Linked DNA regions of Homo sapiens. The protein of the gene in region 1 interacts with the protein of each later gene in a biochemical or structural test. Each region holds a gene or a part of one and is shown in the gene's direction. Other genes may lie near its edges.

Region 1 (5,792 bases):
ATACAAAGATCAGAGAGGTCTGTGGGAGGGAAGTGAAGCAGTTCTGGGCCTGTTTTTTTCATGCTTTATCATACTGGGCCTGTTGCCTTCATAGATAAGTGGTCCCCAGCACTGCAGATCCGCACAGTTCTGCTATCGATCCAGGCCTTGTTAAGTGCTCCCAATCCAGATGATCCATTAGCAAATGATGTAGCGGAGCAGTGGAAGACCAACGAAGCCCAAGCCATAGAAACAGGTATCTAATATTCATTCTCCTTCACACCACTTCCACTTTTACAAATTTGTATTACCACTTAAACTTTTCTAAAGCTCTTGGCAAGGAAAAGAAATAGAAAAAAGTATAATAAGTGAGATCCTGCTTATAGTATGTAAATACGTCTTAACAAAATGGCTTGCTATGGGACCCCCCAAATATAAAGACAACCTGTAATTGAAAGATCTTGGAGTCTCTTGTAACTACACCTGGTTTAACAAATACTGAGTGCATACCATTTATCTAGTTATATGTAAAGAATACTGGAAAACTTGAACTGTTTTTGTAACCCATTTGATTAAAGTATTCAGCTGTTTATGGCTACGGAATTTGGAGTCAAGAAGCTTCTGCTACAGATTTTAAGAAAATTAGTGGGGAGAATTGTGTATCTAGAAATGGACAACTTGATTCATCCTCTTGAATTTTCTAGAACTTCTTAATTTTATTGTAGTGTTTTGGTAATTGGACATTTACAAAATCTTTCAGCCCTGATCCAATTTATAGAAAAAGGCGTGAATTTAACAGATTACAGCATGACATTTCCATAATTAATAGTGGTTGTTTGCCATTTATAGTTTGGAAAGTAACATATTGAACTAAGTAAAATAATAATCGTATGTTTGTTTCTGTCTACAGCTAGAGCATGGACTAGGCTATATGCCATGAATAATATTTAAATTGATACGATCATCAAGTGTGCATCACTTCTCCTGTTCTGCCAAGACTTCCTCCTCTTTGTTTGCATTTAATGGACACAGTCTTAGAAACATTACAGAATAAAAAAGCCCAGACATCTTCAGTCCTTTGGTGATTAAATGCACATTAGCAAATCTATGTCTTGTCCTGATTCACTGTCATAAAGCATGAGCAGAGGCTAGAAGTATCATCTGGATTGTTGTGAAACGTTTAAAAGCAGTGGCCCCTCCCTGCTTTTATTCATTTCCCCCATCCTGGTTTAAGTATAAAGCACTGTGAATGAAGGTAGTTGTCAGGTTAGCTGCAGGGGTGTGGGTGTTTTTATTTTATTTTATTTTATTTTATTTTTGAGGGGGGAGGTAGTTTAATTTTATGGGCTCCTTTCCCCCTTTTTTGGTGATCTAATTGCATTGGTTAAAAGCAGCTAACCAGGTCTTTAGAATATGCTCTAGCCAAGTCTAACTTTATTTAGACGCTGTAGATGGACAAGCTTGATTGTTGGAACCAAAATGGGAACATTAAACAAACATCACAGCCCTCACTAATAACATTGCTGTCAAGTGTAGATTCCCCCCTTCAAAAAAAGCTTGTGACCATTTTGTATGGCTTGTCTGGAAACTTCTGTAAATCTTATGTTTTAGTAAAATATTTTTTGTTATTCTACTTTGCCTTTGTACAGTTTATTTTACTGTGTTTATTTCATTTTCCCAATTTGACAATCGTATTTTAAAATTGAAACTGATGGAACATTCTTTCTTGGTCTTCACCATCTGACAAATTGAATGGCAAGAGGTGGATTTTGCCAGTTTCTTTTCACTGATGCAGATTTGTGTTAAGATAGTACTGAATGGAGTATTTATAAACTGGCCCTGAGCATGCATAAAGCATCAGTATCTGACCTTTTTTTAACCTTCTAGGAATTTGAAATAAATGTGTTTGTGTTGTCTGATTAGATGATCATTGGTGTCTTGCCACAATGTTTAAAAATTACTGTACAGGAAAGTCACAGCAAAGATAGCAGTTGTGACTGACATGTAGGACTTTCACAGTTGTGCCACATTTTTGCCTAAAATTTGGGTTATGACATTTTTCTTGGTTCTTATCTGAAAATTTCATCTGTAACCTTTCATGTGTGTTAAGAAACACTGATCTGATCATTTGGGATTTGCTGAGGCATTTGTGAGTCTTCCTTATAAACCTGATGAGCAGATCTCAACTATCTAGCTTGTGTGTCATCAGAAAGGTTTATCCCTTTGAGAGTATCAAGTCCTCAGTTAATGATTCTTGCTTTCATCCCTCCAGTATTTGCTGTGGGAGCTCGTTTTATTCTTTAATTTGGAATTCAGTAATTTTTCTTCTTTATTGACGAATTCCTCCCCTCACAAAACTGTTCTTTCCCACCTCTCTCCATATCTAATTCCTGATTCTTGTTATTTTTAAGTCATAAATGTAGCCAGTCATAAATACATAAATGTTAACCTTCGGGTTGCAACCTTGTCTCTTGCAGTTTAAGGTAATGGATATTGTAGCCCATTTGAATTTTCTTCACTCTTATTCTCGTAATTCTGGAGTTTCTTCAGATTGTGGTGTATTTTATTGTGCTCCTATGTAAGATGAAGAATTAACTATTAAAATTACATTTTCAACATACAAAAGCTTTTGATGACTGGTAACTGGTATCCTTCCAAATAAATGCATTGCTTGGTAACAAATGTTAGCTTAATTCAGAATGAAATAGTTAACAACCCTAATATTGTAAAATTTGAAAACTGATAGCAGCTGTCATTTATAACAATTCTTGGGCTGTTTAAAGGGTACATTTGACTATAGCTAAGGAAATTGAATCTCACTTTAAAAATGAACCACACAAAACTTCAAGAAACGAAATAGAAATCAACATTTACTGCCCGTAATATTGCTCATGGTTATAGCTAGTATCACATAGTGATTTACAAACCATGAAATTCCAGATTTAAATCTGTTGCACTACAAAAATGTCTAAATGATGTCTGCTAAATTTGTGAGTTATAGAAGTACAGAAATAAGTCATTTTCATTTCAAATGCAGTGAATTTCTAATTTCATGGTATCATATTTTTTTCCTTTGCAGTTTTGGTAAGACTCCCCCATTACTTTGCTAAGACTTGCTTTCTCAACCAGTGGGATGAAACGAGTGCCAGTGTGTTGACTGAGCCTTCTTAGGACTTAAGGGGCTCTGGGAGAGGCCAAGGCAGCAGTTGAAAACTGCAGCTTCACCTGGCCTTTGGGCCTGTTTTCCCTGGCCCACACAGTGTGGCTGGTTAAAACATTCTGAATTTGATGCCAACATTTTTAAAAATTGGGAGATTTGCATGAAAATCCAGAATTCGGGTAACTTTTGAATGATCTGAAGATCTGGCAACAGTAGACCTGACCCACCTTTGTGCACGGGACTTAACTGAGAGGATCTGAGTAGCAGACACCCTAAGAGCATGTCATTGTCTTCTCACCAGTTACTCTCCAGTTGGCTAGAGTCCCCTCCGAGCACACCTGCTAGTCCTTCCCCCTTGTAAGCCTTTGACTTTGTAATCCCTGGGCTAAAGGAAACACATTATTCAACAAAAGTGTTTCATGTTTGCCCACTAGTTGTTGGGGATGATTAGGTGGTGAGTGAATGGCATGGGGCTTTCCTTTGGGGACCATATACTCTAATGGGGAAGGGGGACAGACAAATAGTTGTAACTCTGTCATGGAAAAGAGAAGTAACTTGGACAGACTTTTGGATTCAGGCCAGATGAACATCTCCAGGCAGAGGGAACAGCAGCATCTGCAAAGTCCTGGGAGAGAAGAAAAGAATCTGAACATTAAGTGGCTTCCTGAAAATCGACTGCCCAGGCCGGGCACAGTGGCTCATGCCTGTAATCCCAGCACTTTAGGAGGCCAAGGCAGGAGGATCACTTGAGTCCAGGAGTTTGTGACCAGCCTGGCTAACATAGTGGGACCCAGTCTTTATTTAAAAGAAAATTGCCCGTTAAGAGGCTTTTCTAAAATCTTGAGGTGTTGATAGGAGCTTTATGTTTTTTGACTTGATTGTTGTAGTCTACTTCGCTGCGATTTGCTTCTGCTCTAGTTATCCTTCATCCTCTCAAAGGCTGTCTAGCAAGATCTTAGGTCTAAAGTAAAGTCATCTCTTGGTATTTGTCGGGAACTGGTTCTAGGACTTCCTTTGGATATCCAAATTCGCAGATGCTCAAGTCTCTGGAATAAAATGATGTTGTATATGCATACAATCTACACAAATCCTCCCGCTTATGTTAATATTTAGATTACTTATAATACCTATTATAATGTAAGTGCTATGTAAATAGTTACACTATTGTTTAAGGAATAATGACAAAAATATACATGTTGACTACAGACACAATGTTTTTTGGAATATTTTGTCTGGTTGTTTGAATCCACGGAAGTGGAACCCATGGATATGGAGGGCCAACTATATAGAACCTTACTCTAGACCAAGAATGTACTTGTAAAACAATTTCAAAGAAGCACTTAAAAATAAGATTAAATACAAACCAACAGATAAAAGTCACAGGTGCTATGGTTGTTTGATGGAGAATGGGGAAGGAAATCTGTCCTAAAAGACATTATAAACACAGTGACCTAAGTGGAACTAAATTGGATCGAGGAAATGATAGGAATAGGCCTCATTTTTCTGTTGAATGGTTCAGGAACCTTTTTTTTTTTTTTTTTTTTTTTTTTTTTTGGCTGCTCTAGCCACTTTCTAGCTCTGTAGTTTAGGCTGGAGTGCTGTGGCATGATCTTGGCTCACTGCAGGTTCTGCCTCCCGCGTTCAAGCGATTCTCCTGCCTCAGCCTCCTGAGGAGCTGGGACTACAGACACCTGCCACCACACCTGGCTAATTTTTTGTATTTTTAGTAGAGACGGGGTTTCACCATGTTGGGCCAGGATGGTCTCCATCTCCTGACCTCGTGATCTGCCCGCCTCGGCCTCCCAAAGTGCTGGGATTACAGGCGTGAGCCACCGTGCCCAGCCCTGCCACATCTTTTTTGTTAGTTGCAGTAGCAATACAACCTTATCTAGAAAAGCTGGCCAAAAAAGAAAATACCATGATAATAGGGTACCTAATTTATTGCTTTATTTAAGAAAAATGTAATATTTCATTCGAATAAGTACTTTTGGGCTGGGATGATATTTCATTTAGCTACTTGGCATGCCACCCATCTTAGGGAATTATATGAGGGTTTATACTTTAAATAACATAAAAAGCAAAACATGCTGAATGTAATAATTTGAGAGAAGTGTAAATAATAAAAATCTGTCATCTACCACCTGGACTAGTAATATATTGTTTGTTTTCTTAACTATACACTCACCCCTGCACTCATCTCCATTTTATCGTGGAAGTCAGGTATATTCCAAGAGTTGGCTTTATGGTACTAACTTGCCATTAGCTGCCATGCTGGGAGCTGGACTAAAATTTTTCCTCTTGTGTGGAATCCAATATTAAGAGTTCGGGTCTCCCCGGCCCTCTCCCAGTTTCATCTTGTCACCCTTGAGCTGATCTCATTTCATGTGTCTTGTATGGCCCTGCTGGGTGGCACTGGTAAGTGTATGAACATAGACTTGATACCAACCTCTGTCTCTACTACTGAATTGATCACATGATTTTTCTTTCTCAGTTTTATTTTTAAAGACTCCTGATCCATCTTACCATATGACTGCTTTTGAAATAGTTCCATGATGTAGATTAGTAAATATCGATAGTTCTTAAGTTTTATTATAACCTAGTAAGTTTACAAAGTCTCCTGGCTTAAGGTCGGGAGTAGATATCAGATCTGGCA
Region 2 (6,334 bases), on another chromosome or scaffold:
GTTTGGGTTACTTTAGCTCTACAGTATAATTTGACGTCAGATGATGTGATTCCTCCAGTTTTGTTCTTTTTGCTCAGGATAGCTTTGGCTATTCTGAGTCTTTTGTGATTCCATATAAATTTTAGGATTGTTTTTTCCTATTTTTGTGAAGAATGTCATTGGTATTTTGATAGGGATTATGTTGACTTTTTGTTTTTCTTACACAGACTTTCTCATATTCTCTTTTCCCTTTCTTCTTCTCTCCCAGCCAAACCCCCTAAAGGTCTCCACACTGCTGTTTAACGGCACACTTGACAATGGCTTCAGCAGCACGCTTGACAATGATGTGGGAGGAGGTCACATGCCCTATCTGCCTGGACCCCTTCGTGGAGCCTGTGAGCATCGAGTGTGGCCACAGCTTCTGCCAGGAATGCATCTCTCAGGTTGGGAAAGGTGGGGGCAGCGTCTGTCCTGTGTGCCGGCAGCGCTTTCTGCTCAAGAATCTCCGGCCCAATCGACAGCTAGCCAACATGGTGAACAACCTTAAAGAAATCAGCCAGGAGGCCAGAGAGGGCACACAGGGGGAACGGTGTGCAGTGCATGGAGAGAGACTTCACCTGTTCTGTGAGAAAGATGGGAAGGCCCTTTGCTGGGTATGTGCCCAGTCTCGGAAACACCGTGACCACGCCATGGTCCCTCTTGAGGAGGCTGCACAGGAGTACCAGGTGAGGCCTAAGAGACACCTGGTGAGTGCTTCGTTTTCAGAGCAGGGAATGGGAGAGGACCACCTCTGGATTGGAGGGGTTAGAGAAAGGAGGGGTTTACCTCTCTCCATGTCTAATGTAGGAGGAGAATTATAAGTTAAACCCAACCTCATTCCCCAGGCGTAGGAGATATGCATGAGAAAATGCTGCAAGGATTACCCCACCCTATTACTTGGTTTGCATGGGGGACGAATAAGCTGTCTTTCTCTGCAGGAGAAGCTCCAGGTGGCATTAGGGGAACTGAGAAGAAAGCAGGAGTTGGCTGAGAAGTTGGAAGTGGAAATTGCAATAAAGAGAGCAGACTGGAAGGTAAGAATGACATCCTGAAGGAGATCTTAGGCTGGAAGGCTGGGCAGGGTCCAGAGTCCTCAACTCACAGCCTTAACCGTAGCTGTGCCTCTCTGAGCAGTGATAGAGTTGGTCCGTCTCACTCTCCAGAAGCCAGCTGCTCTCTAGGTTTACAAATAGAGGGGAATAAAAATGATGCAGGTTCAAAGGGGAGCTCCCCATCAGGCCTGAAGATCAAGAATCCTGGAAGAAGGTGCTGAGAGGATCTAGCTATACCCTAAAGTTTCGAGCTCCTCTGAGTCTAGTCTCAGAGGTGTGATGGCGTCAGCACCTGGATGTGTGAGACAAATATCCTAGTAGAAACCCAACTGCTAGCTAAGCCTTTCAGGAAATGACAAGGGCTGTGAGGAATAAACTTAAGGAAACCATCTGACCAGGTGGTTACTTGACCATGACCAGATCTCTGGTCCAAAATATAATGAAGAATCAATGTTTGTTCTGCACTGATGATTTCCTAGGAGAGGTGGGGCATGTCAGGGATGAGAGGGGAGAAGAAGGAGCCCATCCCCAGTAGATCACAGAAGAGGAAGATTTGGGATTGAGGTAGGGTGTGAGTTGGGTTGTGGTGACAAAACAGACCCTCATGTGTCATCGAGTGACCTTCCAGTTACTAACAGGAGAGGAAAAGCAAAGAATGTCCCCAAGCCCCCTTTCCCAGGACTTAGAGGTGGTGGCGTGAGCCTGGCTTTGTGAGGTTGTTGGAGGTGGGAACAGGTGATTTTTTTCTCAGTAACTCACTGAGACAGGAAGACACAGGGGCACATTTGAGTGGTGACTGGGCTTGGAAGAGAGGTTGGAAAAAGTCCCCAATGCCATATATTCGTGTAGCTGTCGTTGTAGGCCAGCTACAGTGTGCCCTCACCAAGTCCATTCCCCTCACTGTCCCAGAAACCTCAACCACCTACCTCCCAAGCAAAATTGTGTGTGTGTGTGTGTGCGCGCGTGTGCGTGTGCATGTGTGTGTGTTTTCCCAGACAGCACAGAGTGGAGTCTCTTGGGGATAGGAATAGGTACCAATACCTCCATTCCCAAAGCTTGGGAGATTTTCATAAAAACCACCTCTCCCTTTCCCTTGACACTAAAGAAAACAGTGGAAACACAGAAATCTAGGATTCACGCAGAGTTTGTGCAGCAAAAAAACTTCCTGGTTGAAGAAGAACAGAGGCAGCTGCAGGAGCTGGAGAAGGATGAGAGGGAGCAGCTGAGAATCCTGGGGGAGAAAGAGGCCAAGCTGGCCCAGCAGAGCCAGGCCCTACAGGAGCTCATCTCAGAGCTAGATCGAAGGTGCCACAGCTCAGCACTGGAACTGCTGCAGGTGAGACAGGGAGGGGTTTCCTTCTACAATTCAGGGAATAACTGAAAAAGACCAGAGCTATCTGGAACTGCCATTTGAATAAATGGACACCTGGTCCCTGGAATGTTCTTAAATGAAGTAGAATTCAAACCCATGAAAGGTTCGCGTTCAAGACGCAAAGTAAAGATGAAAATAAGTACAGGACCTTTTTAAAAATCAATTTATGTTGCACTTAGAATCATCTTGCATCCACCAATGATATGTTTGCCTCACTGTAGGAAACTATGGACTAGATGGTCTCACAAGTCCCTTCTGTTCTAACATTCTACAGCTCTTTTCCCACACCTGTTCAGTGTCACTCAGAGTGGTCATGAGCCATTGCTTTCAGGTTTGTGCAGAAAACCTAATTGTATTGGGTTGACTTGACAGGCTCTCTTCTGCCCAACATTGAACCAGGCTTTCTATTTATTTATTTATTTATTTATTTATGAGACAGAGTTTCACTCTTGTTGCCCAGGCTGGAGTGCAATGGTGTGATCTTGGCTCACTGCAACCTCCGCCTCCCGGGTTCAAGCGATTCTCCTGCCTCAGCCTCACATCACCACACCTGGCTAATTTTGCATCCCTAGTAGAGATGGGATTTCTCCATGTTGGTCAGGCTGGTCTCAAACTCCCAACCGTAGGTGATCTGCCCCCCTCAGCCTCCCAAAGTGCTGGGATTACAAGAGTGAGCCACTACACCTGTCTGTAAACCAGGCTTTCCAACACACTTTTGACTGAGTCTAGGAGCCTGCTAGCTCCCATGTAATGGCGCCTAATCCCTACGACAAAAATATTCTCAGTGATTTGGTTTCACATACAGGAAGAGGCAACATTAAGTACCCAAGGGAGCTTTAACTAACCAACCTTTCCTTCCCAAACAATGCTAGCCCACAAGTGGAATAGAGTGGTTTCTGGACACCTGAACTCGGCCATTCTCTGCCTGTGATTGTTTCTGGGCTTAAGCCAAGCTGGGCTATGTGCCCTCTCTGCCCTCCTTTCTTTCTCCCCTGGGGAAAAAAAAAAAAAACTGGTCTTTGAGTCAGAGTCCTGAAACTGATAACCCTTCCCTAGCCATAGGTCACATCCATGCTGGGCTTCTGGTTACCTCACAAGCAGCCACACATCCTTTCTGCTTTGAGCTGGTCAGAATCATCTCTGGGGCCTAGGACCAGAGGAAGGAGAGGAACAGTGCCCCAGGGACCAAAGATGGATCACATCACCCACAGGGCTGATGTCTCAGTGGCGATCCAGCAATCCAGAACTTACTTTCTGTCTCTTTTCTCCTCAGGAGGTGATAATTGTCCTGGAAAGGTAAGGAGGAGTTTTCTTTGTTAGAAGAGGGGCCAGCAGAAAGCATATATGCCTATGACAAAGGTGATTGAATTAGAAGTACATGCACTGAAGTTTTCCCCATCTGGCTTCCTATTCTCAAAAACTTCATTCTCTATAAAATATTTTCTGGTCTCAGAAAGCTAATAAATGGACATCTCAATTGGTGATTGCCCACAGTAGTTGGATCATAACATCTTCACACAGTAAAGTCCTGCCAAACAGGGAAATCCTGGGAAGTTCTGGGTCTTCCCGGAATTCAGACTACTGGGACATGGCCTGCTGGGACTCCTTTTCTCAGTGGAATCTAACCAGTTACCTCCCAAAAAGAGCCATGAGTAAGACCCACAGTGTGGGCAAGACTCCTTGAGGTTCCTTGCAGAAGTGATTCAGCCTGTCTCAGATTGCTTGCCTATAAAATGAAATTGAATGCATTTGCCAGGTGACCTCAGGCTTAGACAGGAGAGACAGACTGTCCACATGCTGCAGAGCCTCCTATAACCAGGAACTCCTGGGTAGAAACTAAATCCTGCATTGTTTGCCTCTCACACCCACTCCTGGAGACTTGAACACCAGAGGTCTTTGTAAATTTGAGTTGAATTAAATTATCGGAGTCCTCCACAATGGAGGTTATAGTGTTAGGGTTTGGGATAGGAGTAGGAGACAGGAGTCTCAAACTCTCTTTCCCCCAGGAGTGAGTCCTGGAACCTGAAGGACCTGGATATTACCTCTCCAGAACTCAGGAGTGTGTGCCATGTGCCAGGGCTGAAGAAGATGCTGAGGACATGTGCAGGTGAGGCAAGTTCTAGTTTTGCGGGGGATAATGGGGTGCAGAGTAGATCCCAGGGTCAGGGAGCCTGGATGGCAACTTGGAGGAGAGATGGCAGGTCAGAGCAGGGGGAACAGAGATGGAGGTAAGGAAGATGGTTTCTTCAGAGGTCAGGACCAAGGCCAGAACTGGCTGATGGTCATTTCCTCACACAGGGAGGTTCACCCCTCATGCTTACCCTGGAGTTTACACAAAATCCCCCCACCACAGGCACAGACTTAGTGAACTCCCCCCATGCAAGGCCTGACTGTGGTCCTCTCTCTGCAGTCCACATCACTCTGGATCCAGACACAGCCAATCCGTGGCTGATACTTTCAGAAGATCGGAGACAAGTGAGGCTTGGAGACACCCAGCAGAGCATACCTGGAAATGAAGAGAGATTTGATAGTTATCCTATGGTCCTGGGTGCCCAGCACTTTCACTCTGGAAAACATTACTGGGAGGTAGATGTGACAGGAAAGGAGGCCTGGGACCTGGGTGTCTGCAGAGACTCTGTGCGCAGGAAGGGGCACTTTTTGCTTAGTTCCAAGAGTGGCTTCTGGACAATTTGGTTGTGGAACAAACAAAAATATGAGGCTGGCACCTACCCCCAGACTCCCCTCCACCTTCAGGTGCCTCCATGCCAAGTTGGGATTTTCCTGGACTATGAGGCTGGCATGGTCTCCTTCTACAACATCACTGACCATGGCTCCCTCATCTACTCCTTCTCTGAATGTGCCTTTACAGGACCTCTGCGGCCCTTCTTCAGTCCTGGTTTCAATGATGGAGGAAAAAACACAGCCCCTCTAACCCTCTGTCCACTGAATATTGGATCACAAGGATCCACTGACTATTGATGGCTTTCTCTGGACACTGCCACTCTCCCCATTGGCACCGCTTCTCAGCCACAAACCCTGCCTCTTTTCCCCATGAACTCTGAACCACCTTTGTCTCTGCAGAGGCATCCGGATCCCAGCAAGCGAGCTTTAGCAGGGAAGTCACTTCACCATCAACATTCCTGCCCCAGATGGCTTTGTGATTCCCTCCAGTGAAGCAGCCTCCTTATATTTGGCCCAAACTCATCTTGATCAACCAAAAACATGTTTCTGCCTTCTTTATGGGACTTAAGTTTTTTTTTTCTCCTCTCCATCTCTAGGATGTCGTCTTTGGTGAGATCTCTATTATATCTTGTATGGTTTGCAAAAGGGCTTCCTAAAAATAAAAAATAAAATTTAAAAAACTGTGCCTCCGTCTATCCCATTCAGTCCTTGTTCCTTAATCCTGAAATACTTGAGAACTCTGAATATGATTAATAGTGATGTGTCTTTAACACTGCACGTGCTTTTCATGCCTAGACTGTCCCATTTGAAATGTTTGATCTTGGACTGAAGACCCAGGTCAAGTCAAGTCTTCTGTACTTCCCCATCATTGCCTTCCCCATCATAGCCGCTGTGGTGATAGAAGGCCATTTGGGCTCTGATCGCTGTCCGAGGGGATATTACCTCCTTACCATGAGGGAACACCTGCTTTTGAAATACAAAGTTCTCCTGGGGCTGGAGTAGCTCTGTGACCTCTGCATCTCTGACCCTCACAGACCTGAAGCACCTTCTGTCCATGTTCTCAGTAAGTGACGAGTGACAACATCAAAGTTCTTGGAGCTCTCTGGGGCTTCCCTATGCTTTCAGTGTTCTAGACAACTGGCCAATTCCTGTGCCCCTTGGAATATCCAGTTTTAATGTTATTTCTCTCTGGAATGCACCTTTCTTGGGC
Region 3 (7,554 bases), on another chromosome or scaffold:
TTTTTGAGATGGAGTCTCGCTGTCGCCCAGGCTGGAGTGCAGTGGCGCGATCTTGGCTCACTGCAGGCTCTGCCTCCCAGGGTTCACACCATTCTCCTGCCTCAGCCTCCCGAGTAGCTGAGACTACAGGCGCCCGCCACCGTGCCTGGCTAATTTTTTTTTTTTTTTTGTATTTTTAGTAGAGACGCGGTTTCACCGTGTTTGCCAGGATGGTCTTGATCTCTTGACCTCGTGATCCACACGCCTCGGCCTCCCAAAGTGCTGGGATTACAGGTGTGAGCCACCGCGCCCGACCTCAAATTCTTGCTTTCAACAAAAATTAAAGAAAAATCAAATCAAGTTGTTAATTGAGAGATTATCACTATATGACTTTTTTGCATATATCTCAAAAAGTATTCAACAAAATGAGTGACAATTTTGTCATCTATTTATACATGTGAACAAGATTTCTCGGCACACATAAAAACATAAAAGAAATAGAATTTATTGCAAAAGTTTGTCTATCATTAAGTAATGTTCATTCATAGATAAATGCTTCTTTTTTTGACAGAGTCTTGCTCTGTTGCCCAGACTGGAGTGCAGTGGTGCCATTTCAGCTCACTACAACCTCCGTCTCCTAAGTTCAAGCAATTCTCCTGCCTCGGCCTCTGGAGTAGCTGGGACCTCAGGCCACCATGCCCAGCTAATTTTTGTATTTTTTGGTAGAGGCAGGGTTTCACCAGGTTGGCCAGGCTGGTTTCAAACTCCTGACCTCAAGTGTTCCGCTCACCTTGGCCTCTCAAAGTGCTGGGATTACAGATGTGAGCCACCGTGCCTGGGCATAAATGCATTTTTGAAAGAAATGAGCCCATCTGTCTTATTAATAGCTATCATTCCAATAAAATGTTTACTGTCTTTAAAAGTTATTTTATTTATATAAAAGTTATAAATTGCAGCATACTTTTCTTTTGTTTGACTGCTAATAGTAATTATATTGATAATTAAATCCAGGGGAAAAAATTTACCAAGAGCCTTTTTGTCACAGGAAGTTAAGAAGAATTAAAAATTTAATACACATACATACTTTTGTTGTAGAGAAGTATTACAAAGTGATAAAAGACTTTCATGCATGAAATATATTGCTTTGGAATGTAATTCTGTGGAGGAAATGGAATGGAAATACAAGTTCAGAAAGATAAAAGAATGACAAAATTTCTTTTTTTTTTTTTTTGAGACGGAGTCTTGCCCTGTTGCCGAGGCTGGAGTGCAATGGTGCCATCTTGGCTCATGGCAACCTTCACCTCCCGGGTTCAAATGATTCTCTTGCCTCAGCCTCCTGAGTAGCTGGGATTACAGGTGCCTGCAACTACGCCCAGCTAATTTTTTTTTGTATTTTTCGAACTCCTGACCTCATGATCCGCCTGCCTCGGCCTCCCAAAGTCCTGGGATTACAGGCATGAGCCACCGCACTCGGCCAAGAATGACAAAATGTCTGATGTAGGCTGAGCGCGGTGGCTCACCTCTGTAATCCTAGCACTTGGGAGGATGAGGTGGGCGGATCACCTGAGGTCAGGAGTTCGAGACAAGCCTGGCCAACATGGAGAAACCCTGTCAACATGGGGAAACCCCATCTCTACTAAAAATACAAAATTAGCCGGGCATGGTGGCGAGCGCCTGTAATCTCAGCTACTCCGGAGGCTGAGGCAGGAGAATGGTTTGAACCCGGGAGGTGGAGGTTGCAGTGAGACGAGATTGTGCCACTCCACTCCACTCCAGCCTGGGCAACAAAGTGAGACTCCATCTCAAAAAAAAAAAAAATCTGATATAAATGAAGAATTTGCTAATATATTTTTACTACCAGAGCTGACCACTCTCCCCCTTCCCCCTTTCTTTCTTTCTTTTTTTTTTTTCTTTTGAGACAGAGTCTTGCTCTGTCGCCCAGGCTGGAGTGCAGTGGTGCGAACTCAGCTCACTGCAAGCTCCGCCTCCTGGGTTCAGGTCATTCTCCTCCCTCAGCCTCCTGAGTAGCTGGGACTACAGGCTCCCGCCGTCACGCCCGGCTAATTTTTTTTGTATTTTTTAGTAGAGACGGGGTTTCACCGTGTTAGCCAGAATGGTCTCAATCTCCTGACCTCATGATCCGCCCGCCTCAGCCTCCCAAAGTGCTGGGATTACAGGCGTGAGCCACTGCGCCCGGCCCCCACTTCCCCCTTTCTTATAACCACTGCATGATTTTGCATAAAACTTTTAGGGCGTGTCCAAGAAAAAAGTTTGAAAACTACTGGTTAACTCACTCTTTCCAGAAACTTGGCTGTGAAATGGAGAAGAGGAGAGCTGGTTCCAGGGAGGCTCAGGTCAAAGGTGATTTTATTTTATTTTTTAATTTTTAATTTTTTTGAGACTAGGTCTAGCTCCTTCCCCAGGCTGGAGTGAAGTGGTGTGATCACAGCTAACCACAGTCTTGACCTCCTGAGATCTCATGGCTCATTACAGCCTCCACCTCCCTGGCTCAAGCAATCCTCCCACCTCAGTCTCCTGAGTAGCTGGGATCACAGGCCTGCGCTACCATGTCTAGGTAGTTTTTGTATTTTTTTTGTAGAGGCAAGGTTTCACCATGTTGCTCAGGCAGGTCTCGAACTCCTGAGTTCAGGCAATCCACCTGCCTCAGCCTCCCAAAGTGCTGAGATTACAGGCATAAGCCACCACGCCCCGCCAGTGATTTCATTTTTTAAGTTGGAAGATCTGAGCATGTTTAAGTGTTTAGTATCATGCCCGTTTTACAGAAAAAAAGAGGCTCTTAGAAACTACGATTTTACTCCGATGCGGAGATTCTAGAACAAGATCCAGGTAATACATCAGTCAGGATAGGCTAGGTTATGCTGTAGCAGCACACACCCACTAAATCTCAGTAAGCTGAATACATCCTAGTTTTCTTCTCCCTCTTACTACGTATCCTAGGGTGCGTTGGCAGGGAGTCTGCTCATCTTAGCCACTCAGTGACCCAGGTCACCGGATGATGGTTTCATCTCCATAATTGGGGCAGCTGGCAGAAAGGGATACAATGGCCGGCTCAGTCGCCTTTAAAGCTGGTGGGAAGTAACATATTACCTCTGTGTGTTTCAAGTGGGTCAGGGAAGTGCCAGTCCTACCATGTGCCCAGAAAGGGAAAGCACTGGAAACGTTGATGAGCAGCGCTGCCTACTCCATGACACTTCCAGTATTAGAAATAACCACAAACGCTTTTTTTTCTTTCTTTTCTTTCTTTTTTTTCTTTTTTTTTTTTTTTTTTTTTTTGAGACGGAGTCTCCCTATGTCGCCCAGGCTGGAGTGCAGTGGCGCAGTCTTGGCTCACTGAAACCTCCGCCTCCCGGGTTCAAGAGATTCTCCTGCCTCAGCCTCCCAAGTAGCTGGGATTACAGGCATGCGCCAGGGCGCCTGGCTTTTCTTTTCTTTTCTTTTTGTATTTTCAGTAGAGATGAGGGTTCACCATGTTGGCCAGGCTGGTCTTGAACTCCTGACTTCAAGTGATCCAAAGGTCGGCTACAAACTTGTATTATCTGATACCTACTTTGAGCCCAGGCCAGAAAGGATAAAGTAAAGCATGAGACGTTGTTAGTTCATTTCAACAGATTGGGGAGTTGTGGGTTTTAGTCTCTGACGCTTCATTGTTACCATGAGAGCCTGCAAGTTTTTCTTTTTTCTCTTTTTTTTTTTTTTAACCTCTTTGGGTCATCTGGGAGGACGTGGTGCTCTTTTAGCTCTAACATTTTCTGGTTGCAATGCGTTTAGGACTGGGATGCGAAGTGAGTGAGTGAGTGAGCCTTCTCAGGAAAACACTTTCTAGAATTTTGTCCGAGTGTCTGTTGGGAAACGCGCTTACATCCCGCAGAAGGCGGTAAGGACACAGCGCACAACTCTGCATTATACCTGCGAGTTAAAAAGCCAAGGGTTCGCTCACTCAACCTTGAATGCGCGTCAGAATCACCTGGGGGAGGTTTTACAAAATACCCGTGCTCCACCCAAGACAATGAAATCAGACTCCCTGCGAGCGGGGCCGAACATCAGCATTTTTGAGGACGCTCCCTGTGGCTGTGCATCGGTGATCTTTAATCCCCTGCTACTTGTTAGAGGAGCTGGATGACACTTCGTGGGCTCATTCTCATAAATAAGCTGCTGAATGGAGTCCTCTCCTCCCAAGAGTTGTCGGTGTTGCATCTTTTTTGTTGTTTATTTTTTTTTAAGCCAACGGACGAAGACATCCAACGGTGCTGCATCTTAATGGAGGGACATCCAGCTAAAGGGAATCTTGGAGACCTCCGCGGGTTTCTAGCAGCTCGCGGCATGTTGGTTTCCCAGGGCAAGAGGCCGCCACTGAAGGTCAGCTCTGTCTTTCCAGCTGGGCACTGGAGGCTCTAAGTCTGTTTTCAGCAGGATCGGAGGAAGGAGACGGGGTGGCGCCAAGGAAGGAGGAGAAAAGGCGGCCGAGAAAAGGAGGAGGGCAAGGGGAAGAGGAAGGGCGAGGGAGGAGCCTGAGGAGACTCGCCCGGCTCAACCCCGACGTCCGCGCCCCGGCCGCCTGTTGGCCATGGCGGGCCTGGGCCTGGGCTCCGCCGTTCCCGTGTGGCTGGCCGAGGACGACCTCGGCTGCATCATCTGCCAGGGGCTGCTGGACTGGCCCGCCACGCTGCCCTGCGGCCACAGCTTCTGCCGCCACTGCCTGGAGGCCCTGTGGGGCGCCCGCGACGCCCGCCGCTGGGCCTGCCCCACTTGCCGCCAGGGCGCCGCGCAGCAGCCGCACCTGCGGAAGAACACGCTACTGCAGGACCTGGCCGACAAGTACCGCCGCGCCGCACGCGAGATACAGGCGGGCTCCGACCCTGCCCACTGCCCCTGCCCGGGCTCCAGTTCCCTCTCCAGCGCGGCCGCGAGGCCCCGGCGCCGCCCGGAACTGCAGCGGGTAGGGAGGCCGGGCCCGCAGCTCCCCTGGCTCCCCCGGGCTGCCCGCCGCCTGACCCTTTCCCATGTGGCTCGAACCCCTTTCCTCAGCCGTTCTACTTTTACGTTCCTTTTCTCAGTCTAAAAGTCGAGTTCCGCTCTTCGGAGGCACTTTGGAAAGTTCATAAAAGTATGAAGAAGTAGAAAAAAACAAATTCCCCATCTTCCGAAAGCTTGTCAACTTAGCTGTTACACAGCTTGGCATATTTCAACTTCTTCCCAATCGATCTTCGGTCTCTTTCTCTGAAACTTGTAAAATTGTGGTAAGATCTATATAACATTAAAACTGGCCATTTTAACCTTTTTCTTTATTTCTTTGAGACGGAGTCTCGCTCTGTCGCCCAGGCTGGATGGAGTGCAATGGCGTGCGTGATCTCGGCTCACTGCAACCTCCGCCCCCCAGGGTCGAGTGATTCTCTTGCTTCAGGCTCGAGAGTAGCTGGGATTACAGGCGTGCGCCATCACGCCCGGCTAATTTTGGTATTTTTAGTAGAGACGGGGTTTCGACATGTTAGCCAGGCTAGTCTCAAACTCTTGACCACAGATGATCCGTCCGCCTCGGCCTCCCAAAGTGCTGGGATTACAGTCATGAGCCACAGCGCCTGGCCTCATTTTAACCTTTTATTTTTTTGAGACGGAGTTTTGCTTTGTGGCCCAGGCTGGAGTGCAGTGGCGCCATCTTGTCTCACTGCAAGCTCCGCCTCCCGGGTTCACGCCATTCTCCTGCCTCAGCCTCCCGAGTAACTGGGACTACAGGCGCCCGCCACCACGCCTGGCTAATTTTTTGTATGTTTTTTTCTTTTTTTAAAAAATAGGGACGGGGTTTCACCGTTGTTAGCCAGGATGGTCTCGATCTTCTGACCTCGTGATCTGCCCGCCTCGGCTTCCTAAAGTGCTGGGATTACAGGTGTGAGCCACCGCGCCCCGCCTATTTTAACCATTTTTAAGTGTACAATTCAGTGACAAATTAGTTACATTTCCTGTTGTGCAACTATCACTTCTGTTTCCAAAACTGTTTCATCATCATAAACAGAAACTTTGTACTCATTAAGCAGTAACTCCTCATTTCTCCTCCCTCTAGCCCCTGCTCACATCTAAGCTACTTTCTGTATCTGAGTTTGCCTGTTCTAGATATTTCATATAACTGGAATCGTTCAATGTTTGTCCCTTTGTGCCTGGTTTCTTTCACTTAGCATAGTGTTTTCAAAGTTCATTCATGTTGTAGCATGTGTCAGAACTTTATTCCTTTTATGGGGCTGAATGATATTCCATTGGGTGGATGTGCCACATTTTTTTTGTTTGTTTTGTTTTGAGATGGAGTCTTGCTCTGTTGCCAGGCTGGAGTGTAGTGGCATGATCTTGGCTCACTGCAACCTCTGCCCCCTGGGTTCAAGTGATTCTCCTGCCTCAGCCTCCCAAGTAGCTGGGACTACAGGCATGCACCACCACACCCAGGTAATTTTTGTATTTTTAGTAGAGACGGGTTTTCACCATGTTGGCCAGGATGGTCTCGATCTCTTGACCTTGTGATCTGCCCACCTCGGCCTCCGGAAGTGTTGGGATTACAGGCGTGAGCCACCGCACCCAGCCTCACTGTGATTTTGATCTGGATTTCCTTAATGACTAATGATGTTGCCCATCTTTTCTTGTGCTTGTTGGTCATTTATAGATCTTCATTGCAGAAATGTCTATTCAAGTCCTTTGACCATTTTAAAATTGGGTTGTTTATCTTTTTGTTGTTGAGTTTTAGAGATTCCTTCTATATTCTGGATATCAAATTAGATATGACTCACAGATATATTATAAAATATATATTCTCCCATTCTAAGCGTTGTCACTTTCTTGATGGTATCCTTTGATGTGCAAAAGTTTTAAATTTAATTTTTATCTGTTGTTTTCTTTTGTTGCTTGTGCTTCTGTTGTCATATTTACAAATCCATTGCCAAATCTCAGTTCATGAAGATTTACCCCTATGTTTTCTTCTAAGAGTTTTTTTTTTTTTGAAACGAGGTCTCGCTCCTTTCCCAGGGATGGAGTGCAGTGACACGATCTCAGCTCACTGCAGCCTCCACCTCCCGGGTTCAAGCAATTCTCCTGCCTCAGCCTCCAAAGTATTTGGGATTACAGGCGCCTGCCACCACACCTGGATAATTTTTGTATTTTTAGTAGAGACGGGGTTTCACTGTGGGCCAGGCTGGTCTTGAACTGCTGACCTCAAGTGATCTGCCTACCTTGGCCTCCCAAAGTGTTGGGATTACAGGCATGAGCCACTGTGCCAGCCTCTTCTAAGAGTTTTATGGTTTTAGCTTACGTTTAGGTAATTGGTCAATTTTAAGTTAATTTTTGTATATGGTGTGAATTAGGGGTCCAACTTCATTCTTTTGTATGTGGAAATCCAATTGTCTTGGTACCATTTGTTGAAGAGTCTATTCTCCATTGATTAGACTTGGCATCCTTGTCAACAATCATTTGGCTGGGCCAGGCATGTGGTTCACACCTGTAATCCCAGCACTTTGGGAGGCCAAAGTTTCATCTAGAGATGAAACCCCATCTCTAGAAAAATACAAAAAATTAGCTGGG

The links. The genes of interacting proteins can lie anywhere in the genome.
Region 2: the proteins of UBE2N (region 1) and TRIM21 form a complex in vitro, tested with the Homo sapiens proteins (3 studies listed by BioGRID, with this or other methods).
Region 3: the proteins of UBE2N (region 1) and RNF135 form a complex in vitro, tested with the Homo sapiens proteins (4 studies listed by BioGRID).

Annotation. Positions count from the first base shown.
Region 1 is NC_000012.12:93,405,177-93,410,968, reverse strand, and holds the end of UBE2N (ubiquitin-conjugating enzyme E2 N), read left to right. Parts: intron 1-94; coding exon 95-235; intron 236-889; coding exon 890-930; 3' UTR 931-5,285; downstream 5,286-5,792. UniProt on the Homo sapiens protein: The UBE2V1-UBE2N and UBE2V2-UBE2N heterodimers catalyze the synthesis of non-canonical 'Lys-63'-linked polyubiquitin chains. This type of polyubiquitination does not lead to protein degradation by the proteasome.
Region 2 is NC_000011.10:4,384,372-4,390,705, reverse strand, and holds the end of TRIM21 (E3 ubiquitin-protein ligase TRIM21), read left to right. Parts: intron 1-247; 5' UTR 248-296; coding exon 297-704; intron 705-956; coding exon 957-1,052; intron 1,053-2,175; coding exon 2,176-2,406; intron 2,407-3,715; coding exon 3,716-3,738; intron 3,739-4,448; coding exon 4,449-4,549; intron 4,550-4,852; coding exon 4,853-5,421; 3' UTR 5,422-5,809; downstream 5,810-6,334. UniProt on the Homo sapiens protein: E3 ubiquitin-protein ligase whose activity is dependent on E2 enzymes, UBE2D1, UBE2D2, UBE2E1 and UBE2E2.
Region 3 is NC_000017.11:30,966,510-30,974,063, forward strand, and holds the start of RNF135 (E3 ubiquitin-protein ligase RNF135), read left to right. Parts: upstream 1-4,529; 5' UTR 4,530-4,564; coding exon 4,565-4,936; intron 4,937-4,954; exon of another isoform or gene 4,955-5,237; intron 5,238-7,554.